Linked DNA regions of Homo sapiens. The protein of the gene in region 3 interacts with the protein of the main gene of each other region in a biochemical or structural test. Each region holds a gene or a part of one and is shown on either strand. Other genes may lie near its edges. The genes, in order: TRIM31, USP13 and RHBDF2.

What was found.
Region 1: the proteins of RHBDF2 (region 3) and TRIM31 form a complex in vitro, tested with the Homo sapiens proteins (one study listed by BioGRID).
Region 2: the proteins of RHBDF2 (region 3) and USP13 form a complex in vitro, tested with the Homo sapiens proteins (one study listed by BioGRID).

What each region holds. Positions count from the first base shown.
Region 1 is NC_000006.12:30,102,995-30,110,099, reverse strand, and holds part of TRIM31 (E3 ubiquitin-protein ligase TRIM31), read left to right. Parts: intron 1-1,051; coding exon 1,052-1,074; intron 1,075-1,912; coding exon of another isoform or gene 1,913-1,931; coding exon 1,932-2,047; intron 2,048-2,312; exon of another isoform or gene 2,313-2,437; intron 2,438-4,712; exon of another isoform or gene 4,713-4,857; coding exon 4,858-4,932; intron 4,933-5,932; coding exon 5,933-5,998; intron 5,999-6,310; coding exon 6,311-6,564; 3' UTR 6,565-6,854; coding exon of another isoform or gene 6,855-6,895; 3' UTR 6,896-7,105.
Region 2 is NC_000003.12:179,740,018-179,747,122, reverse strand, and holds part of USP13 (ubiquitin carboxyl-terminal hydrolase 13), read right to left. Parts: intron 6,877-7,105; coding exon 6,751-6,876; intron 4,927-6,750; coding exon 4,773-4,926; intron 2,081-4,772; coding exon 1,906-2,080; intron 1-1,905. UniProt on the Homo sapiens protein: Deubiquitinase that mediates deubiquitination of target proteins such as BECN1, MITF, SKP2 and USP10 and is involved in various processes such as autophagy, endoplasmic reticulum-associated degradation (ERAD), cell cycle progression or DNA damage response.
Region 3 is NC_000017.11:76,470,368-76,477,472, forward strand, and holds the end of RHBDF2 (inactive rhomboid protein 2), read right to left. Parts: intron 6,932-7,105; coding exon 6,813-6,931; intron 6,658-6,812; coding exon 6,463-6,657; intron 4,775-6,462; coding exon 4,663-4,774; intron 4,438-4,662; coding exon 4,363-4,437; coding exon of another isoform or gene 4,293-4,362; intron 4,168-4,292; coding exon 4,006-4,167; intron 3,776-4,005; coding exon 3,666-3,775; intron 3,536-3,665; coding exon 3,472-3,535; intron 3,376-3,471; coding exon 3,281-3,375; intron 2,961-3,280; coding exon 2,885-2,960; intron 2,739-2,884; coding exon 2,638-2,738; intron 2,473-2,637; coding exon 2,319-2,472; intron 1,686-2,318; coding exon 1,266-1,685; 3' UTR 529-1,265; downstream 1-528. UniProt on the Homo sapiens protein: Regulates ADAM17 protease, a sheddase of the epidermal growth factor (EGF) receptor ligands and TNF, thereby plays a role in sleep, cell survival, proliferation, migration and inflammation. Does not exhibit any protease activity on its own.

The DNA.
Region 1 (7,105 bases), on a different chromosome or scaffold from region 3:
TGAATATTTTAAAAGTATTAATGAGATATTTCACATTCTGGGTTTTTGGTGGTTTTTTTTTTTTTTTTTTTTACACTGAGTCTTTGAAATTGTGTGTATATTTTTCACTTTGGCACATCTCAATTCAGATGCTAAATTGTCAATTGTTAAAGTAAAATATAGTCTTACCAAATCAATAAAGTTGTGTTTAATGGAAAAAGTACTTTACCCTTCTTCTATTTATTTTATTTTATTTTTTGAGATGGAATCTTGCTCTGTTGCCCAGGCTGGAGTACAGTGGCGCGATTTTGGCGCACTACAACTTCCGCCTCCTAGGCCCAAGTCCCAAGTAGCTGGGATTACAGGTCCCCACCACCACGCCCAGCTAATTTTTGTATTCTTAGCAGACACGGGGTTTTACCATGTTGGCCAGGATGGTCTCGAACTCCTGACCTCAAGTGATCTGCCCACCTCAGCCTCCCAAAGTGCTGGGATTACAGGCGTGAACCACCGTGCCTGGCCTCTATTTTTAATTTAAATTTGAATTAGTAAAAATGAAATTAAAAATTCAGTTCTTTGTCACACTAGCCACAATTTCCAATGTTCAGTAGCCACATGTGGTTGGTGGCTACCATATTGGACAGTGCAAGTCTAGCTGGTGCTTAAAATAAGCTGAGATGATTCCTCCTCAAGTCATCTATTCTCCCACAGGTTCAAAAACCTATTTATTTATTTTAAGAAAGATCATGCAAAGCCATTCTAGCCTTTCTCCTGCCCTGGCTAGCAGGCTCCCTTGTTCAGTCTCAGAGCCAAATTCATCTTCTAAATCTCACTCTTCTCTTCTTCACTCAGTTCTTCTTGAGGTCAAAACACTTTTCTGCTTACTGGCAGAGCAGTGCTTCTTGGAGAAGCCCTTCGTGGTGGGGAGAGGGGAGGAGGATGGGGTAAGAGAGACTTGGAGGGGTTCTTACTCCTCCTGCTCTGCCCCACACCCAGCAGGCTCTGTATCTCCTCCTTGGCTCCTGGGAATCAGCCAAGTGCTGAGGCTGTGCTGTTTCTCTTTCTCTTCTAGGATATCAAAGTCGTCTTGTGCAGGTATGATGGGCCACCCCAAATGTATTTTGCCTACTGATTCATCCACACACAATTCTCAGCGTATATCCAAATGCAGTCAACATTCCTCTCTCAGAAATACCCACCCACCTCTAACTCTGCATTCATACATTTAGGCTGCAGCCGGGGAATGCCTATGCCAACCATATTAGCACGTGGTTGGTTGTTAAAGAAACCAGCTGTTTTCTCAGCCTTCCTCCTTCTTCAGCACAGATTCTACTATTTCCTGAATGCCCCCTTGCTCAACTGAATAGCTCCTGGGTCCCCTACTCTGTCTCCCTGACCCTGTTTTTTTCCCTCCTCTCTGTCTCCATCTCCCATCTTCATTTCCATATCTCCCTATGCCCTACCTCACTCCCGCCCCATATCCCTAGCCCTGACTTTCTGACTCCCAGCTCACTATCCCTTAACCGCCAGGTCTTCTTTTTTTTTTTTTTTTTTTTTTTTTGAGATGGAGCTTTGCTCTTGTTGCTCAGGCTGGAGTGCAGTGGTGCAATCTCAGCTCACTGCAACCTTTGTCTCCCAGGTTCAAGTGATTCTCCTGCCTCAGCCTCCCAAGTAGCTGAGACTACAGGCGCTTGCCACCAAGCCTGGCTAATTTTCATATTTTTAGTAGAGACCAGGTTTTACCATGTTGGCCAGGCTAGTCTTGAACTCCTGACCTCAGGTGATCCACCCGCCTCAGCCTCCCAAAGTGCTGGGATTACAGGTGTGAGCCACTGCTCTCAGTTCTACCCCCAGGTCTTCATCCCCTCATTTCTCAACCGCGTATCTCAGATCCTCCTTCTCCCACACCTCATCCCCTGATCTCACCAACCAGCTCAACCACATCTTCCTAGAAGTGAAGAGTTTCAGTTTCTCAACCCAACCCCTGTTCCTCTGGAACTGGAGAAAAAACTCAGTGAAGCAAAATCAAGACATGACTCCATCACAGGGAGCCTAAAAAAATTCAAAGGTAAGGAAGAGGCTGTATTTTCTCTATTCACCTACTTCCAGGAGATTCTCTCCCTGCTCACTCCACTGAAATGGAACTGTGACTCATACATGCCAACAATCCCTGGGCCCTTCTAGTGCCAGGCTTCTGGCTGAGTACTTTCCACGCATCAGTATGCCTCCTCCCAGGCATTTCTTATATTCTGTCTTTGTGATATGTTATTTATCTGCCTCCCTGACTCCTGCGAGAGCCATAGAGGGCCTGGACCTATTCCCCATGTGGACACCTGGCCTAGAGCAGTGGCTGTTGGGAAGTTGGTGATGAGTTGTCTGGTGGACCAGAGATGGCCTCAGGCAGGGACTGTCATCTCTGACTTCTCCTTCTCTGGTGCACACTGGTGTCTCCTCCTGCCTACAGAAGAAGAGAAAATAAATTCAAAATCAGTGACATTCTGGGGAGAAACCTCTTCCAGCCTTACAGGGAAACAGAAATCAGCAGAACAGTAGTGGATGACTTGGGTTTTAGATGTTCGCCAGATATTTTTCATAAACCTTTCTGTGTTTGCAACTAGGAAGAAGGGTTAGTATTTGTAAGGACTCCCCTTAATGTGAAGACTGTGTTGGTCTAAGGTGGGCATAAAGACAGCTAGATGGAATCTTCTGAAATTATCACCTGGAGTTCCACACCCACCTCCCCCACCCCAACCCCCAGCCCCCCATACACAAACACTTCCCCTTGGGACTACGGAAAAGGAGGACCAGGGCAATGCCCCAAGATCTCCACCCATTCAGCCGGGAATCTCCACTCGGCAGACATAAACAGGAAAGCATGTTTTGTTTTATTCTTAATTTTGTTGTCTGAGCTTTTCTTTTGTCCACTAACTGCTCTGCTTTGTCTAGCTCCTCCCACCCCACTGGGCATGATCTCAGCCGATCTAGCAACTTTATTTATTTGTTTATTTATTTATTTATTTTTGATGGAGTTTTGCTCTTATTGCCCAGGATAGAGTGCAGTGGCGCAATCTCGGCTCACTGCAACCTCCGCCTTCTGGTTTCAAGCGATTCTCCTGCCTCAGCTTCCCAAGTCGCTGGTGTTACAGGCGCACACCACCATGCCCAGCTAGTTTTTTGTATTTTTAGTAGAGACGGGGTTTCACCAGGTTGGTCAAGCTGGTCTCGAACTGCTGACTTGTGATCCACCCGCCTCAGCCTCCCAAAGTGCTGGGATTACAGGCGTGAGCCACCACGTCCAGCCCGATCCAGCACCTTTCTAGGCTCTTCAGGTCAAGAATAGTTTGGTTCTAGTTTGGAATTTCAATAAAGGAGCCCAGCCCTTTCCACTTCATCAGGTTTGGAGTTGGGGAGACTGGTGTGCTCTACTCTGTATCCCCCTTTTCTTTCCCTCTTTCACATACACAAACTCACACACACACAGTCCCCCAACTCCCACCTGGCCCTATTTCCTTCTTTTTTTTTTCTCTTATTTTTATTTTATTTTTACCCCAAAGAAGAAGGCACAATGGCCACCTGGCCCTATTAAAGCCTAGGAAATACAGGAGGTGGTAGGGAGTCTACTTATACCACAGGTCCAATCTCCACAGTTCTTATTATGAGGGTTGGTTCTCCCTGCTCGGGGTGACTGGGTCTGGAACACGTACGTGGAGAAGGGTGTGGCTGGGCCCTGAAGCCGCTAAAGGCCCTTGTAGGTGAAGTGCTCCCAGGCAGTGTTTCCTATGCTCTAGGTTTGCAGACCCCTCCTAAGAGGGCCCCCGCGTCTCCCCTGAGCAGTCCCCATGACTGGGCTGGTGGCTCTCAGGGAAGCTACCCACGCTTGTCCCACTACCTAGCCCCAGGCTGTCTTGTGCTGTCTTGGGGCTGCAAGACACTGGGGGAAGGGTGCTGGGGCCAGAAGTAGCTCCCCATCTAGGGGCTCCACCCTATAGTTCTCCACTCAGTCCAGCACCCCTACAGGAAATCTAGGCCAGGAATGGGCCATTGTCCCCAGCTTCTGGGCTCATCCTCTACCTGCAAAAGGAGTCTCTTCTGGCAGGGGTGAACTGGGAGATGAAGGCACTCGGCCTCCCCTTGCAGGAGCTCTGTCTTCGTTCCCCCTCTCAAGCCCTCTTTCATGGGAAAGAGGGCAGGACTGCCATCCAGGCTTTAGGAGAGTGGGGCCCCCCCTTACCCCACCTGGCTCCTGGGTGGTTAGCCCTACAGTAGGCCTTCTGAAGCTAAAGGGTGAAGCCTCAAGGCACTCTTTGTCCTGAGCACCTACCTTTGTCAGGCAGTGAGAAAGGGGCTAGCTCTGCACTGTCCAATTTAGTAGCTGCTAGCCACATGTGCTGACAGGCACTTGAAATGTAGCTAGTCCAAATTTAAACATGCTATATGTGAAGAATCATTAATTTCACAAGATTGAGTGTAAAAAGAGACTGTAAAAGATAGCAATAATTTTTATAATACATGTTGAAATAACATTTTGAGAATATTGAGTTAAATAAAATATATAATTAAAGTTAATTTTACTAGTTTCTTTCTACTTTTTAAATGTGACTACTAGAAAATTTAAAAATATATAAGTGGCTCACATTCGTGACTCAGATTACATTCATCATTCATACTGGACAGTGCTGGGCTAGGCAGTCACCACAGGAAATCAGAAAGGGCATCTCTCAAGGGTTGCATACCTTCCTGGTCCAATAAGAATATGAGAGTCAAATGCAGCTTCTACTTCTCCCAGGCATTTCAAATTAGTGCCTTGCTGTGTGATAGTGAGTTCTTTGCTCAACCCCTCTGGACTCTCACCATTTCATCCCATTCTTTATTCCCCAGACCAACTCCAGGCTGATAGGAAAAAAGATGAAAACAGATTCTTCAAAAGCATGAATAAAAATGACATGAAGAGCTGTAAGTGAGAAATGATGGTTGGTTGCTTCTGCCATTTGGGGAAAGTGAGAAAAGGGGAAGAATTGTGTCTCTATGATTACATGAAGGCCAGATATAAGTGAATGCCGATTCCTCAGCCAATTGAGAGAACAGGCATATGGTTGTTTTATTATTTTAAACTCAGGTAACTCACAAAACAGTCACTAATCCCAAACTTTGAAGTATTCAGAAGTAATAGAAAATTACAAATGTATTTCTTCACTCCTAGAGACAGGGAGGAAAAAGTGGGACAAGAAGGAGGCAGCTCCACCTCTGTAGTATTTGCTGCCCCTACAGGGCAGCAGGTTTCGAGGCAAACTCCTCTGGGTGTGAGGTCAGTACAGCTCAGGGGATGGAGACCCACTGTAATAACAGCCTGTGCTAAAGTCATTAGATATGGTTCTGCCACCTAAGACAATAACAGTAGAAGTACCATTTCTTAAAGGACCACTATGTGCGCATCTAATATTTCAAAACCCCACAACTATCCTCCAAGATAGGTGTTATTATCTGCAACTTACAGTGAGGTCCATGTAGCTTCCGGGAGGGGAGGTAAGTTACCCAGGTCATATGATCATTAAGTGAAAGAGAGAGAATTAGAACTCCTTTCTCCAAAGCCAGAAACTACAGAATGCATTCCAAAGCCAGAGAGCAGGATTTAGGGATCCTATTCCACCAGCATTTCTCCACAAAAGGAGCTACCGGTGTTTAGAAAGGCCATCTTTGTTATGCTCCATGACTTTTGCCCTGTTAAATGCTTAGTATCCCAGGCCCCAGAAAGCCCTATAAGCCAGTAGAGAACCACACTCTTGTTGTCACTGAGACAACCTGAAAGGTTTCCACACTTCCCCCTGGGTGGGGAATGGGTCCCACTGAGAACCATTGACTGTTCTGATTGATGATGGCAGGGTGCTTGTTTTTGTTTTTAATTTGCAGCTTCTGGTTATCAAGACCAAATAGGTTTTCTCTCCCCAATTTTTAGGGGGCTTGTTACAGAAAAATAATCATAAAATGAACAAAACCTCAGAGCCCGGGTCATCTTCTGCAGGTAAGAGTCCTGTCTCTGAATACTAAGGGACCTCTAAGTCTACAGGTGGTCAAAATGCTGTATCCACCCAATTCCACTAAATGGAATAAATGAATAAATGAATGAATTCATTTATTCCATTTCCTCAGTTCCTCCCCAAATTACACCTCTGCCAGGAAACAGAGGGCGCTCCGACTTGTTCAGGTGTACTTTCTTGAGTTTCACCTCCATCCCTCCTGCTGTATGTAGAGCTCAGCTGTGCTGTCTGGCAATGGAGGATTGCTGCCGAGGTGCTCCCGCTGACCTCTTTTCTCCTTTCCTTCTCCCGCAAAGGCGGCAGAACTACATCGGGGCCACCAAATCACCACTCTTCAGCCCCATCCCACTCCCTGTTTCGGGCCTCGTCTGCTGGGAAAGTCACTTTTCCAGTATGTCTCCTGGCCTCTTATGATGAGATTTCTGGTCAAGGAGCGAGCTCTCAGGATACGAAGACATTTGACGTTGCGCTGTCCGAGGAGCTCCATGCGGCACTGAGTGAGTGGCTGACAGCGATCCGGGCTTGGTTTTGTGAGGTTCCTTCAAGCTAAGCCAGCTCAGAGAACACGGGGAGCGGTGGTGCTACACGGACTTCGGAGCATAGAGTGGCGCTGAGTGAGTGGCTGAGACCGACCACGGTTCTTGACTTAGTGGAATTGGGTCGAAGGAGTGGAGAATGGGAGGGCTCGGGCTACTGAGAGTGGAGATGGGGGCGGGGGTGGTGGTGAAGAGAGTTGGAGAAGGAATGGACGAATTCTTGAGCAAAAGGAGGGGAAGAGACAATCTCCAGCCACCCGCCCCACGCTTGACTTCTTATCACTTTGGCTGTGGTGCCGCCTAGTGGAAAAAGGAAGTCCCTGCAGCAGTCCCCGCACTCTTTAAGCAGCTGTTTACCGAAGGCACCAGTTCAGCCAGGAGTGAAATCCGGAGAGGAGCAACGCCAGCCTGGGTCACAGTCCATCAAACCCCATGAGCCCGACCACTCTCGCTCTTCCTTACATTCCCACGTCCCCCTTCTCTCCCAACCCCTCATATCAGCAAGGGAAATTAATTAATGAGATTTGATAAATCAGTAGATAGAATGAGGTCCCC
Region 2 (7,105 bases), on a different chromosome or scaffold from region 3:
ACAACCACCCACACCTACAACTGAGCAGTCCTAGGATAAAAACTCACTTAGTGATGGGCAACTGATACCTGAATGAACTACTATTAATCTCCCTTGGATAGGGAGCTTTTTAAAAATAATTTTAACAAATATGGCTTGTTTTTCCTTTTTGAAATAAATTGTTTTTGCTTTCCTGTTTTTAACATATGAACTCTACAATCTGAAACATAGCAGAAGCCTGAGGGAGGGGTTTCACAGAGAACAAATAATATAGGTTGAGGCCGGACATGGTGGTTCATGCCTGTAATCCCAGCACTTTGGGAGGCTGAGGAGGGCAGATCACCTGAGGTCAGGAGTTCCAGATCAGCCTGGCTAAATAGTGAAACCCTGTCTCCACTAAAAAAACAAAAATTGGCTGGGTGCGGTGGCTCATGCCTGTAATCCAGCACTTTGGGAGGCCAAGGAGGGAGGATCACCTGAGGTTGGGAGTTCGAGACCAGCCTGACCAACATGGAGAAACCCCATCTCTACTAAAAATACAAAACTAGCCGGGCATGGTGGCACAGGCCTGTAATCCCAGCTACTCGGGAAGCTGAGGCAGGAGAATCACTTGAACCTGGGAGGCGTAGGTTGTGGCAAGCAGAGATTGTGCCACTGCACTCCAGCCTGGGCAACAAAAGCAAAACTCCGTCTCAAAAAAAAACAAAAAAAAATATACAAAAATTAGCCGGGCTTGGTGGCATGTGCCTGCATTCCCAGCTACTCAGGAGGCTGAAACAGGAGAATTGCTTGAACTTGGGAGGCAGAGGTTGCAGTGAGCCAAGATCATGCCACTGCACTCCAGCCTGGGTGACAGAGCGAGACTCCCTCTAAAAAATATATATAATACTTATATATATTATATGTATATATATAAAATTTTATATATATACATTTTATATATAAAATTTTATATATATATATATAGGTTGAACTGCTATTGAGGCCATGGTAAAAACAGCCCACACCAGCCGTTCCATCCTTTAATCCCCTTTATGTTAGCCAAAATCTCAATCTTAGCCTCAAAGAAAAATGGCCAAAGAATATCTGAACGTAGCAAAACTCCTGGAGCCAAACTTTCAGACCTCCCTTTGTTTTATGCCACTGCAAGCACTCTTTTTCCAATTAAGTGCAGTGATATGAAGTGTGTTGGCAAGGACTCGACTGCATCAAATCAACTAGGGTGGCAGACGGAGAAAAAAAAACTTTTATGTGTCTGACAACCAGCCTCACAATGTGAAAACAAGACATCTGACTAAACCCTGAGCGGCTCGTTTCAACAATGCTCAGGAGACTTCCTGTCCACTTTGAGATGTCCTGAGACTCCTAGTCTCCAAGGAGAAACATAGCCAACCAAGTTCTAGACTAAGTCTTTAATTATGGAGTTAAAATATAGCACAATGGAGTTTAAATATGGAGGCCTGTCTTCAGCATTTTTGTAATTTCTTCATGAATAATGTCATTCTTGCCATTTGCGGGTAGGGGATTGTTTCTTGGCTGTATCCTCTTGGTAAGAGAGGGGCTGGGGGTGGGGTCAAGGTTGGGAGGAAGGGAAGGAGGAAGGAAGGAAGGAAGAAAGGAAGAAAGAAAGGAAGGAAGGAAGGAAGGAAGGCTCCTAATAGAGAATAAATCACAACCTTACATTTAAAAAAAGAAAAAAGAAAACCCCTCCTTAGCACGTAATATAAATCACAGGCCTGTTTTATTGGACAGGTCTCACACAAGTGAAGTTTGACGACAGTTAGGGTGTGTGAACCATAATCCCATCCATCACACATGAACAAACACACACAGACACAAATAACACCCACCCCCTTTCCCTTACCCCTGTCCCCACCCCTCAAGGCCCCTCCTCACCCCACTGCCACCACATATACACACACTTACTTCACACCCGCAGACTTTGCTTGTAGGGCACTGCTCCAGAAATCATCAACATTTTCTGGTTCAGAGAAGGCCTGAAGGCAGGCACTAAATGGTATCTTGGCACGTACCAACTCAGGAAGGGGTCTTCTGTTTGCTTCTGCTTCCCTTCTCGTTAGTTCATAAGCGATCAGTTCATCTGGGTGAAAGAGCAAATCAAAGACCTTGCAATCGCTCTTACCCTGTGGAAATGAAAAGCACCCTCTTTGGACAGTCTTCCCTGAAGGCTTCTGCGCTGGGCCAGAGTTGCTTATTTGTCGCCCTTTACAGAGCCAGATGCCCCTGCTGAAAGGCTGTTCTGGGGCTGTCTTTAGAGTTGCACCAACAGGTGGTATCAAGCCATTTACATCTTTTTGCATGCTCCCCTTTGCGACTGACAGGAGGGAAGTGTGAGCTTGGCCTGGCCTGGGTGGGTGAGAGGGCCAGACCATGTGTGTGATATAAATGCCCATGAACCTGGTTTGTCCAAAGGCCAATACTGGGATTATTCAAATGCCATCCTCCCAACACAAGGCCTTCGCATCAGAGTATTTCACAGCCAGAAAAGGTCCAAGGGCTCACGTCTTCCCAGTCCTTCACTGCCTTGCTGAAGAACTGAGGCCCAAAGTCAAAACCAGCCAATTATTGGCAAAGCTGGACTTAAAACTCTGATCAGCACTCCCTCCACAACCCAACAGATAAGGCCAGAAAGAGATGTTACATTGTGTAAGGGGATCAATTTTTGCCAATGATCACACACACATACACAAAAGTAACAAAAACATTCTTGTTAACTTTAAGCTGTTTTAAAATAAAATAACCAAAGGCAGAAAAAAACAAAACAAAACAAAAAAAAAAACAGAACCACCACTAAGCGCCTGGCAAGAGCCAGATCGAGTGTTACACATTTTCTGATTTGGTTCCACCAGCAACTATGATTAGAGGTCATGGGTCCCACATGGGTCCCTGTGAGGCCAAGGAGGAGGATAACTACAGGACTGCAGTTAGCCACCATCAAACAACCCATGACAGTAACCAACACTGCCGAGACAACTTCCTGTGGAGGTTACCCAACACCTCAGACATCAGGGCTACCAACCCAGAAGGCCTCTGTGCTATTCCTACTCAAATGATTAAATACTAAGGGAAAAAGAGGAACCTCCCAAGCACCAGCAGATCTGGTCCTGGAAACTAGCCTGTAGTCAAAATTTTATGTCAATTTGAATGGCCTTTCTGGTCATTTCTTTTGTATTACTCAAAAAAAAAAAAAAAAAAACTCCTTATTTATCAGTTTGTAGGTACACTTACGCACATATGTGTTTTCCTAAACACATCTTAGATGGTTTAAAATTCATTCCCCTGTCCCCAATCAGTTTATGATGTACTTATATCTAGGTTGCTAACATTAGGTGTTCCCAACAGTCAAATTCCAGAGACTAAATTATAAATCTCCTTTCTGAAAAAAAAAAGTAGTTATCACTAATAAATGATAAACAGAGTTAAAAAAAGATCATGGACATGAGCAGACACGTGAGTCAGTAACCCTGAGGCGGACAAGAGAAACCACTGCAGCCTAGTTCTAACAAGGAAACAAACAGCAGACTCCCATTCCCTTGTTTCTACACCAAAAGGATTTTGAAACTGATCAAAAACTGCATGAGCATATAGAAAATGAAAATCGTTTCATCTTAAATCATCATAATCATCACTTTCCAACTAACATCATAAACTGACCCACCACCCCCCACACACAAGAAAGAGCAAAAAGGGCCATCCAGGGAACCGCTGAATTTTTTTTTCTTTATTCTCAAAAAAAAAAACAAAAAACAAAAAAACTCCAGGATACATGTGTAGAACGTGCAGGTCTGTTACATAAGTATATGTGTGCCGTGGCGGTTTGCTGCACCTACTGACCTGTCCTCTAAGTTCTCTCCCCTTTCCCCCCACCCACCAACAGGCCTCAGTGTGTGATGTTCCCCTCCCTGTGTCCATATGTTCTCAATGTTCAACTCGCACTTATGAGTGAGAATATGCGGTGTTTGGTTTCTGTTCCTGTGTTAGTTTGCTGAGGATGAGGGCTTCCAGCTTCATCCATGTGCAAAGGACATGATCTCATTCCTTTTCATGGCTGCATAGTGGAATTGCTGAACTTTACAAAAATGACTAGTTCACAGGAGATGCACAATCCAGCAGCTATTTTGTCTTTTTTGCTTCTACGATGTTAATTCGAAGAAATGCCATTTGTCTATTCTGCCTAGGAAGAACCAGCTTAGACTGATGGAAGGAGAAGGCACCAAACATGAGTGCCACATCTCTGCCTCCTTCTCTCTTCCAAAGCCCAGAGACCCTTCTAATGGGCTTTGCTTCTACAAAGAACCCTGACACAATTTATCTCCCAGAAGAGGTGGCTCAAATACTCATGTGCCAAAGCTGGATTATTTCAAGAGACCTCTGCTCGAATGTCTAACTTTAAAAAATGCAGTCCTGATCATTTCCCTCAGACTTTATAGCACAACTTATAAATGACAGTGTTAAAGAATTTTCTACATACATCATTACCAATAATTTTCCCCAAAATTATGCTGACTCCATATTCAGTAGTTGGCCAAATTTATAGGCAGTGACGTAGGTTCCAACCATAACGCCTCCATAAAACCTGTGATGCATTTGATTCTTCTCAAAGGAAAAGTCACATGGGAACTAACAAAGAGATGAAAAGAGATGTGCAAAGCAGACATCACCTGGGCTGGGTCTACTCCTGACACACTTCAGTGACTAAACCATTCTCTCTGATTTGAGGGTTTTCCCATATGAAGACACACAGTACCAATTTCCCGCTTTGGAATTGTTACCCTTGTTGGTTGCCGCCTCCATGGCCACAGGTAACTGCATCAGGTAATCCACCCTCTCCGTGTAGCGGACTTTCCGGGTCTGACAGCACTGAATGCGTTCTTCCACCAAAAAACGAAAAACATCGCTTGGGTTTTCTGAGCCGATGCGGTTCCTCTGAAGGATGGATTGTATCAGGTTAGTAAATGTATGAATATTGAGCCACTAAGACTTAGTAGAAAATGAACTCTAAACCCGGTGTAAACACTTGGCTTTATTAAACATTTCCTCTGGCCATGCCCATTCACCAAAGCACTTTAATAGAAAAACACTGGAATTTATCTAAAGTCCAAAAATGGGGATTGGTAAAATAAAATATAGTTCATCATGGATTACTATTTCAATATTATTAAATTAAAAACCATGGGAGAGAAATTCATGGAATGAGAAGAAAGGAGGAGGAGAAGCCAATCAAAAGAGAAAGGGAAAAAAATAAAGGGCTGCCCTGGAAACATAAAAACATGTACAATATGATTATATAAATACACTCATGTAAATTAGGTACAAATAAAACAGAAATTATGCTCTGTTAACAGATGTGATGATGTGGCAAACATTTAAGTGAAAACACTGCTTACAGAAGAGCATGTAGAGAATTAACATAAGACCTGGAAAGTGATGGGAGGGGCAGATGCCAACCTGTGAACACTGGCTGTTGGCCGGGCACAGTGGCTCATGCCTGTAATCCCAGCACTTTGGGAGGCGGAGGCGGGTGGATCATCTGAGGTCAGGAGTTCGAGACCAGCCTGGCCAACATGGTGAAACCCCGTCTCTACTAAAAATACAAAAAAATTAGCCAGGCATGGTAGTGGGTGCCTATAATCCCAGCTACTCGGGAGGCTTTATTCTAAAAAAAAAAAGTTATCACTAATAAATGATAAACAGAGTTAGAAAAGATCATGGACCTGAGCAGACATGTGAATCAGTAACCCTGAGGCAGACAAGAGAAACCACTGCAGCCTAGTTCTAACAAGGAAACAAACAACAGAAGAATCACTTGAACCTGCAAGGCGGAGGTTGCAGTGGGCCAAGATCGTGCCACTGCACTCCAGCCTGGGCGACAAGAGCAAGACTCTGTCAAAAACAAACAAACAAAAACAAACAAACAAACAAACAAACAAAAAACACTGGCTGGCTGCAGGGCGTGGCATTAAGGGGGATTTTGATGTTCTCCTTTGTGTTTTCTATATTTTCCACAAAGAACACTGTTGTAACCAGGAAAAAAAAAAAAGGCTTTACTCAGGAATTCTCAGTGGCTTTCCAGCTCACACCTGTAATCCCAGCACTTTGGGAGGCCGAGGCGGGTGGATCACAAGGTCAGGAGTTCAAAACCAGCCTGACCAACATGGTGAAACCCCATCTCTACTAAAAATACAAAAATTAGCCGGGCGTGGTGGCAGGCTCCTATAATCCCAGCTACTCAGGAGGCTGAGGCAGTAGAATTGCTTGAACCCAGGAGGCAGAGGTTGCAGTGAGCCAAGATTGTGCCACTGCACTCTAGCCTGGGCAACAGAGCTAGACTCAGTCTCAAAAAAAAAAAAAAAGTTTTTAATGGCATTCGATTCTGATGTAAGCAGACTCATCATCTTTGAGCAGTGGCAGGAGGACACCAAATACCACGCAGGGCTCTTAAGGAACTTTGTCACAAAGACCAGAAAAAAATAAATTGTGAATGGAATAACTGGCAAGCACTCCTATAACACATACAGGTTAAAAGAAGCACAGAGATCCACAAGTGTCTGGAAACTGGAGTGTGAAGAGCAGTCACATCAAGTTGGCTGAGCAGAGAGTTTCCAGGGATCTGATTCTGAACCAGCTTTAACAGGAGAGATTGAAGAAAGAGAGTGGGGAGGCATTCTGATCAAGCCACAGCAGACTGCACTGAGTGGCTCGGCACCCTCTTACAACCCCGCTGAGCATCCGTGAAGACTGACTACTCACCTCTACTAGATTCACCAGGTGCAAGAAGAATTCCTGGGCATCTTGCTGCCTGTTAGAGGAGAATTCCGGGTGGCTCTTGCTTACAAAGGCCTTAAACATGCGCGGAGAGATCCCGTTCTGCTGTGGCTAATGTATAAAAATGAAATGGACTTATGATACTTTCATGCAAATTAACAGCCCTAAGCGGCAAGCAGAGCAGAACCCACCATAAACTCCACTTTCCAGATGAGAAAACTACAGCCCAAAGAAGGTAAATAATGATAGTGGCCAATACTCGCTGGGTGTTTACTATGTGCCAGGCCCTGCACTATGAACCTTATGAAGAACACAGGATGAGACTCTTCCTGTTTACTTA
Region 3 (7,105 bases):
CCTAGGGTGGGGGAGAGTGGGGAGCAGCAGGATGGGGCAGAGGCGGGAGGCCTGTGCTGTAGAGGCAGCTTGGGGCAGGGAAGCTGGTGCAGGGCCCTCTGCCCATGGTAATCAAGTGGTCATACCCGGTGCCTCACTGGCCATCCTCAGTGTGGTGGGTGAGGCACTGGCACAGGGAGTGGACTCGTCCCCGGGTGGGGTGACAGGTCCCCTCAGTGCCATCCCCATCAGGGCAGGCCACCCTGGGCCCAGGCAGCCCCTTCCCTGCTCTGGAGCCAAGGCAGAACAGGTAGGGGTGGGAACCCCAGGGCCCTAAGGATTCAACCCAGCCCTCCCAAGTGGACCCCTGGGGTCTCCCACGTGACCCCAATCTGCTTTCTGGCCCAACTAATTCCCCAAGATGCTCCACAAGTTTTCTGCTGTCCACCGGGCCAAACTGCTGTCTCTGAGCAGCTGATGGCTGACCCCTCACCTCACCCCCAAATCCCAGTTTCATGCTACCTGAGGTCTCCGTTAAAGACAATGTACTGCCATAAAGAATATTATTTAATCCATGAGACATCGTCCGTACAAAGTTAGCGTTACTTTTAAAAATGAAGACCGTGATATAAACTGGTAAAAAACGGGCCTGATGCGCCTCGAGCACTCCCTGGGAGCAGGCCCTGGGGTGGCTCCGCCCAGTGTCGTTCTACCTGAGGTCTACTTGTGTCTCCCCCCTTGTTCTCTGCCCCCAGACCATGGCCAAAGCCTTTCCCACAATGTCCCATCTGAGAGCCTTATGGATGGGCTCACAGGGCAGAGGTAGGAGGAGAAAGAGGAAGGGGCATGGTGGGCACCCAGCCCTGGGGGCAACTGAGGGCACAGCCACGTCCCCAGCAAGGGCACGCTCCAGTAGTAGTGGGGGAGAAGGCACCAGCAGAGGCAGCGCTGAGGACCTGGGAAGAAAAGGACCCTGCCCCAGGAGATGGTCTCAGCAAGGAGCGGGATATTAGGAACTGAGACCCAAGACTCAGAGAGGCAGGTGCCTTGGGTGTGCCTGAGCTTGGGTCAGGATCTCACAGGCCTCACGCCCCAGAAAAACCCCGCCTTAACCAACCATCTCACGCGGAGTCAGCCTCGCCTGGCAGGGGGGCACCCAGGTCCAGAGCCCGGGCCCTGTCTTGGGTCTCTGGCTCTCTGGCACACAGAGAGCGCTCTGCAGAGGGCAGCCCTCGCAGGCAGACCCTGTTCCAGCAGGGCTGAGGGGCAGCCGTGTGGCCCAGCGGTCAGTGCAGCACCTGGTCCAGCTCATACTTCTCGCAGAAGCGGCTGGTGAAGGGGAAGCAGGTGAGGTGCTCGATCCAGGGCCAGTTAATGGGGTAGATGTACAGCCACAGCACGAGGGCGGCGAAGAGGCCGGCAAAGGCCAGCAGTGACACCAGGATGAGTGCCCGCTTGCGGTACTTGTCGCTGGTGCCGAAGGTGATGTAGGGCAGGAAGGCGAAGGCCAGCAGCAGGCCACTGAGGAAGCCGAAGATGTGGGCGATGTTGTCGATCCAGGGCAGGAGGCCACAGATGAACAGGAAGAGCACGATGGCCGAGAGGTTGAGGAAGGCCTTCCAGGGCCTCTCCAGCAGCGGCCAGCTCTGGAAGAGCTCCACGAAGAGGCAGGCGAGGAGGCCGAACTGTGAGCCGGCCGGGCCCACCTGGGGCGGGGCAGGGGAGACGTGGCTTCAGGCATCAGGTGGGTGGCCTGGGCCGGGCCTGCACCCTGGGTCATCCCATCGATCAGCTCCTCCCTGGCAGGCATGGGGACCCCTGAGGCTGAGGGGCAGGGGGTCGGCTGGAGCTGCTGGACCAAAGCTGGGCCTGCTCCGCCCATTCTTTCAGCAAACACTGAGCGCCTACTGTGTACGTGCCTGGTGTGGGTCCGTAGCAATAAGCAAGACAGACAAGCCTGTTCCAGGCCGCACACGGTGGGGAGAGGACGGACACTGAACAAACTAGATCAGTCAGGTGGAACTGATCAGACTGCCGACGGCGCACGGAGGCCATTTCCTACCGCTCGACCTGCAGATACCTAGCATACTGTCAGGCAGTGGGCACGGTTAGGAAGATAAATGAGGCGGTGGAGGGACAGGGTGACTCAAGAGCATCACTGTTCCCTCTCACTGGGATTAAGAGACCAGCCAGTAAGCCCCCAGATTAGCTGTCCCTCCGCTGTGGAGCCCAGTACAGGAGGGGCACCGTGTCCCTCTGGCAGATCCCAGGTGGGTGGAATAGGAGCAGCAGGGCTGGCCCCCTATGTGCGGAAGGGGTCCCATCCTCCACATCCTTACCTCTGCCCGGTATGGGAGAAAGATGGCACTGGCGAGGTTGCCTGTGATGCCACTGAGGATGAAGATGATGGCGATACGGTGCCAGCCGGCCAGCTTCTCCAGGTCCCTCAGGATGGTCATTTGAAAGACCACAGACACGAGGCAGTGCACCACGCTGGGGGAGGGACACACCAGGCAGCGGCCTTCAGCCAGGCACTTCAGGAGCAGTAGGCTTCGGCAGGTTGGGCCGGCCATGCCCTGGCCCAGGAACCTTTCCCCAGGGGTCCGGCTGGGTGGCCATCACAGGGGTCGGGTTCGGGGGCAGTGAGGAGCCTCTTACCCAGCATGTAGGAAGAGAGACAGCCAGAGCCTGTAGAACTGATCTGGGACCTCAGGGTTGAGGAAGGGCAGCAGCCCACACACCTTGTCCAAGCAGTGCACCTGGGAGTGGGCATATGGTGCTCAGCGCCCCAGAAGCAGGCTGAGTCTGAGGCTCCGACATGGGAGGGAGTGCGTGAGCCCCGGCCCCAGCAGGCTGCCATGCCCAGCGTCCTCTCCTCCACTACTCCAGGCCTGCCTCGCCTCACCTGGGAGCAGAGTGTTGCTTCCTCATGGAAATAGCCGTGCATGAACTCACAGTATTCCCGGGTGGTGATCTCACAGCTAAGGGGGTGGTGAGGCAAGAGGGGACATCAGGGCGCCGAATAACCACTGCCCACCTTTGCCCAGAGCCCAGCACCTGGCTACAGGAGGCATCGCTGGCAGGAAGGGGGATGCCGCATCCAGAACCTTCGACTCTGGAGCAAGCTTCCTTCCTCCAGCTCGCACCATGGGTAGCCCCAGAGCAGGGGAGCAAAGGACAGTTATTGGAGGGCATCGGCCCAGCGGCTGTGGGTGGTGACGGTGGAGGAGCAGAGGGCCCACAGGAAGCCGCAGCTCGGGGGGGCAGTGGGATGGCTGAGGCCAGGGCCCAGGTCGCTCACCTGCCCTTGGTGCCGATGCAGCAGGGGCGGCCCTTGATCTCGCAGTCCATGTGCAGGAAGCCTGTGTGGTTGCTCCTGGCCTGCTCTGTGCAGATCTGCCAGGAGGGGGCACCGGCAGGGAAGTGGGCTGTGCAGCAGGCAGGTCCCCCATCCCTGACCTTCCCAGACCACTCCCCGCCAGGGACACTCACCGGCCACTTAGTGATGTCATCGGGCCAGATGTGGGCACCGCTGGAGGCTGGCTCCTCGCAGGTCCTGGAGACAGGGTTCAGATTGGGCTGTGGCACACCCAGCGTGCCACGTCCACCTACCCACGTCCCTGTGGGTGGCTCAGATGGCATGGCTATGCCTGACCCTGAGGCCCAGCAGAGGCTCCAGGCCCTACCTGGGGTCCTGGTGGCAGACAGCCCCCGAAGTCCGCTTCTGGCCCAGATCAGACTTGTCCATGGGGGGCCCAGTGTCATCCTGCCACTTGACAAAAGTGGCCAAAGTCTCCTGGAGGGCAGAAGAAGGCTGGTGGGTCATGTCGGGGCCAGGTCACCCCCACTGGAGTGGGCAAGGACAGAGGCTTTTCCCATCTCCCCAGGGCTCAGTCTCATCTATGGGGGTCTGGGAAAGGTGGGGCGGGGAGGAGGGAACGTGGTCACTGCCCTTGAAGGACAGGGCAAGTGGAGCTAGTCCGGGACCAGGGTCTGGCAGGGGTAGGAGGGAGGGCCTGCCCCCACCGAGCAGTCCTTCCGCTGGGTCTGGATGCATCCGGAGTGGTCATTCTGGACACAGCAGCCTGAGTCCCGCTCCAGGTCTCGCTCGCGCAGCACCAGCTGCTCGATCTGCCCGTCCTTCCGGATGCAGGGTGAGAACTTGGCCCCCAGGTGGATCAGGTCAATCTGGGGAAGGGAAAGGGAGGGGAGAGAGTGAGTTTGAGCCCCAGACCTGGGAGGGGTCCATCACTCCACCTCTGCCCCGCAGAGTCTCCCCTGATGAGGGGCCTGCGGGTGGGTGAGGAGCCCACCTGCCCAGCTGGGAGTGACAGGGCACAGGGACTCCTGGCTCAGATGATGTCCCCCAGCCTGGGCCCTCACCGAGCTGGGGCCAACCCAGAAGTTCTCCTGCTGGATGTACTTCACGCTCTCGTACACACCTTTGTTCCGCAGCACCTATCGTGGAGGTAGCACAGAGGAGGGCGTCAGAACAGTGTGGGCCCTGGGCATGGGGAGCTGGGGCAGCTGTCCCCAGGATAGAGCCTCCAGGAAGGGGCCAGGCTATGGTGAGCACCACCCTGCTGGGGCCAGATTGTTGCGGTGGGAGGGATTAGGTACCCACGACACTGAGGCCTCCTAGGAGAGGCTGGGACCCCCAGCATGGAGCCTGACCCGACTCACCAGCTGGGTGGTGACGTGCTGGGCAAAGCCCACGGGTGCGATGCCATACGTGCAAATCACCAGCAGCGTGATGATGACATGGACGAAGGTCAGCCAGTAGGTGAAGTAGGGCCTGTGCAGAGACACCTCGGGTCAGCTGAGCCGAGCTCCTATCCCAACCCCCAGTCCCGGCCACAGGGCCACCCTGGCCTGGTCACATGGCTCGCCTGGGCTCCCTGTTCTGCCCCGTCAACTCATCTCAAACCAGAGGAACTTTTAAGACGAGCCTCCAAGCATCTCTCTCCTAGCTTAAAACCTTTTGATAGCTTTCCACTGGCCTTGGGACAAATTCCAGAATCACCCCCTCTTGCTGGCTGCAAAGCTTTGCCTGACCGACCACCTCTCTGGCCTCTTTGCCTGCATTTCCTGGGATGTACTTTGCCCTTCCAGCCCCAGGGCCTTTGCACATGACATCACAGTTTGTCCTGACTGCACCCCTCCCCACCAGCTGTTCACTCTCCCTCTCTATCCTCCTCCGGGACACCCACCACACCTATCATTGCTTGTTCTTTTCTTTTCTTTTTTTTTTTTTGAGACAGAGTCTCGCTCTGTCACCTAGGCTGGAATGCAGTTGTGCGATCTCAGCTCACTGCAACCTTCGCCCCCAGGTTCAAGCGATTCTCCTGCCTCAGCCTCCCTCGTAGCTGGGATTACAAGCACCCACCATACCTGCCTAATTTTGTTTGTCTTTTTAGTAGAGACCAGTTTTCACTGTGTTGGCCAGGCTGGTCTCGAACTCCTGACCTCAGGTGATCTGCCCACCTAGGCCTCCCGAAGTGCTGGGATTACAGGTGTGAGCCACCGGGCCTGGCCATTGCTTGTTATTTTCTTTTTCTTTTCTTTCTTTTTTTTTTGAGATGGAATTTCGCTCTTGTTGCCCAGGCTGGAGTACAATGGTGCGATCCTGGCTCACTGCAACCTCTGCCTCCCAGGTTCAAGTGATTCTCCTGCCTCAAGCCTCCCGAGTAGCTGGGATTACAGGCATGCACCACCACGCCCGGCTAATTTTTTGTATTTTTAGTAGAGATGGGGTTTCACCATGTTGGCCAGGCTGGTCTTGAACTCCTGACCTCAGGTGATCCGCCTGCCTCGGCCTCAGAAAGTGCTGGAATTACAGGCGTGAGCCACCGCGCCCTGCCTGCTTGTTATTTTCTAATTTGGGCCCAGTGTTTATTGGGCTGCTGCAAATCAGATGCCCTGTTCTTCCCCAAGGGCTCTGCATAGCCTCTCCCAGAGTCCCCTCCCTCCCAGCCCCAGCTTCTTCTTTTAAAGTAGAGGTAGGGTCTCACTATGTTGCCCAGGCTGGTCTCAAACTCCTAGGCTCAAGCAATCCTTCTGACTCAGCCTCCCAAAGTGCTATAATTACAAGTGTGAGCCACGGCGCCCAGCCCTGGCCCCAGCTTCTAACTGTCCTCTGACCGACCCTGCCCTCCCTGCTCCACCCTCTGGGGGTTCCATTTTAGGGCCTGCAGGCAGTGACACTCAATGAACATTTGTTGACTGACTGCTGTCTGGGAGCAAGGCTGGGGACCAGGCTCAGAAAGCATGGGGTGGAAGAGAGGCAGCAAGCACCCCTGGCCCTTCCCAGGTCATGTGCACAACCCTTGGGACAGGGTGCGCCTTCGAGCTTGTCACTACACTCCTGATCCGCAGAAGATGCTCATGAAACACTTGCTGAATGAGTAAGGGGGCGCTTCAGGAGGGCCCAGAGGAATTTGGAACCTTCCAGGCTCTCCTGGGGGCTCCAGGGCGACACCTCACCGGTGGCTGTCGAAGCTCTCCAGCTGCCGCTGCACAGTGCTGCTGATGCTGCGGCGGTAGCTGCGGTTCAGCCAGTTGCCCACCACGCCGAGGCCGTAGTGCCGCTTCTTCCGATCAAAGGCAAAGTGCTTCACCTTGGAGGCGATGCGCTTGCCGCGCCGGGGCCCGGGGACTGGGGCTCGGCCATACTCCTTCCTGGTGGGGATGGTGGCTTTCAGCCTGAATCCCCCACCAAAATACTCCCAGACCCCACCAGGGTGCTCAGAAGGGGCTTGGGGGCCAGGGTGAGGTCTGGGGATGCCCCCAGGCTGGTGGCTGGCCTGGAGGAGGGACTCTGCCCCAGCACTCACAGAGGGATTTGCACCCCATCGGGGGAGACAGGGGAGGCTGAGTGTGGGATCCCTCGGAAGTAGCTGGCAGAGAGTGGGGGGGACTCAAAGACATCATCAGGCATGGAGCTCATTTCTTCCTGGGGTGGGGGACAAGAAAATACAGTGTAAGGAGTCTGTCCCAAACACTGCCCCCCGGAACCTCAATTCAAGGGCAGGACACAGCTGAACAGACGGGCTCTTCACAATGAATTGGGAAGCCACATGCCCGTCAGCCCCAATGGTGACTTTCCCGGGTGGCACTGTGCCCCACC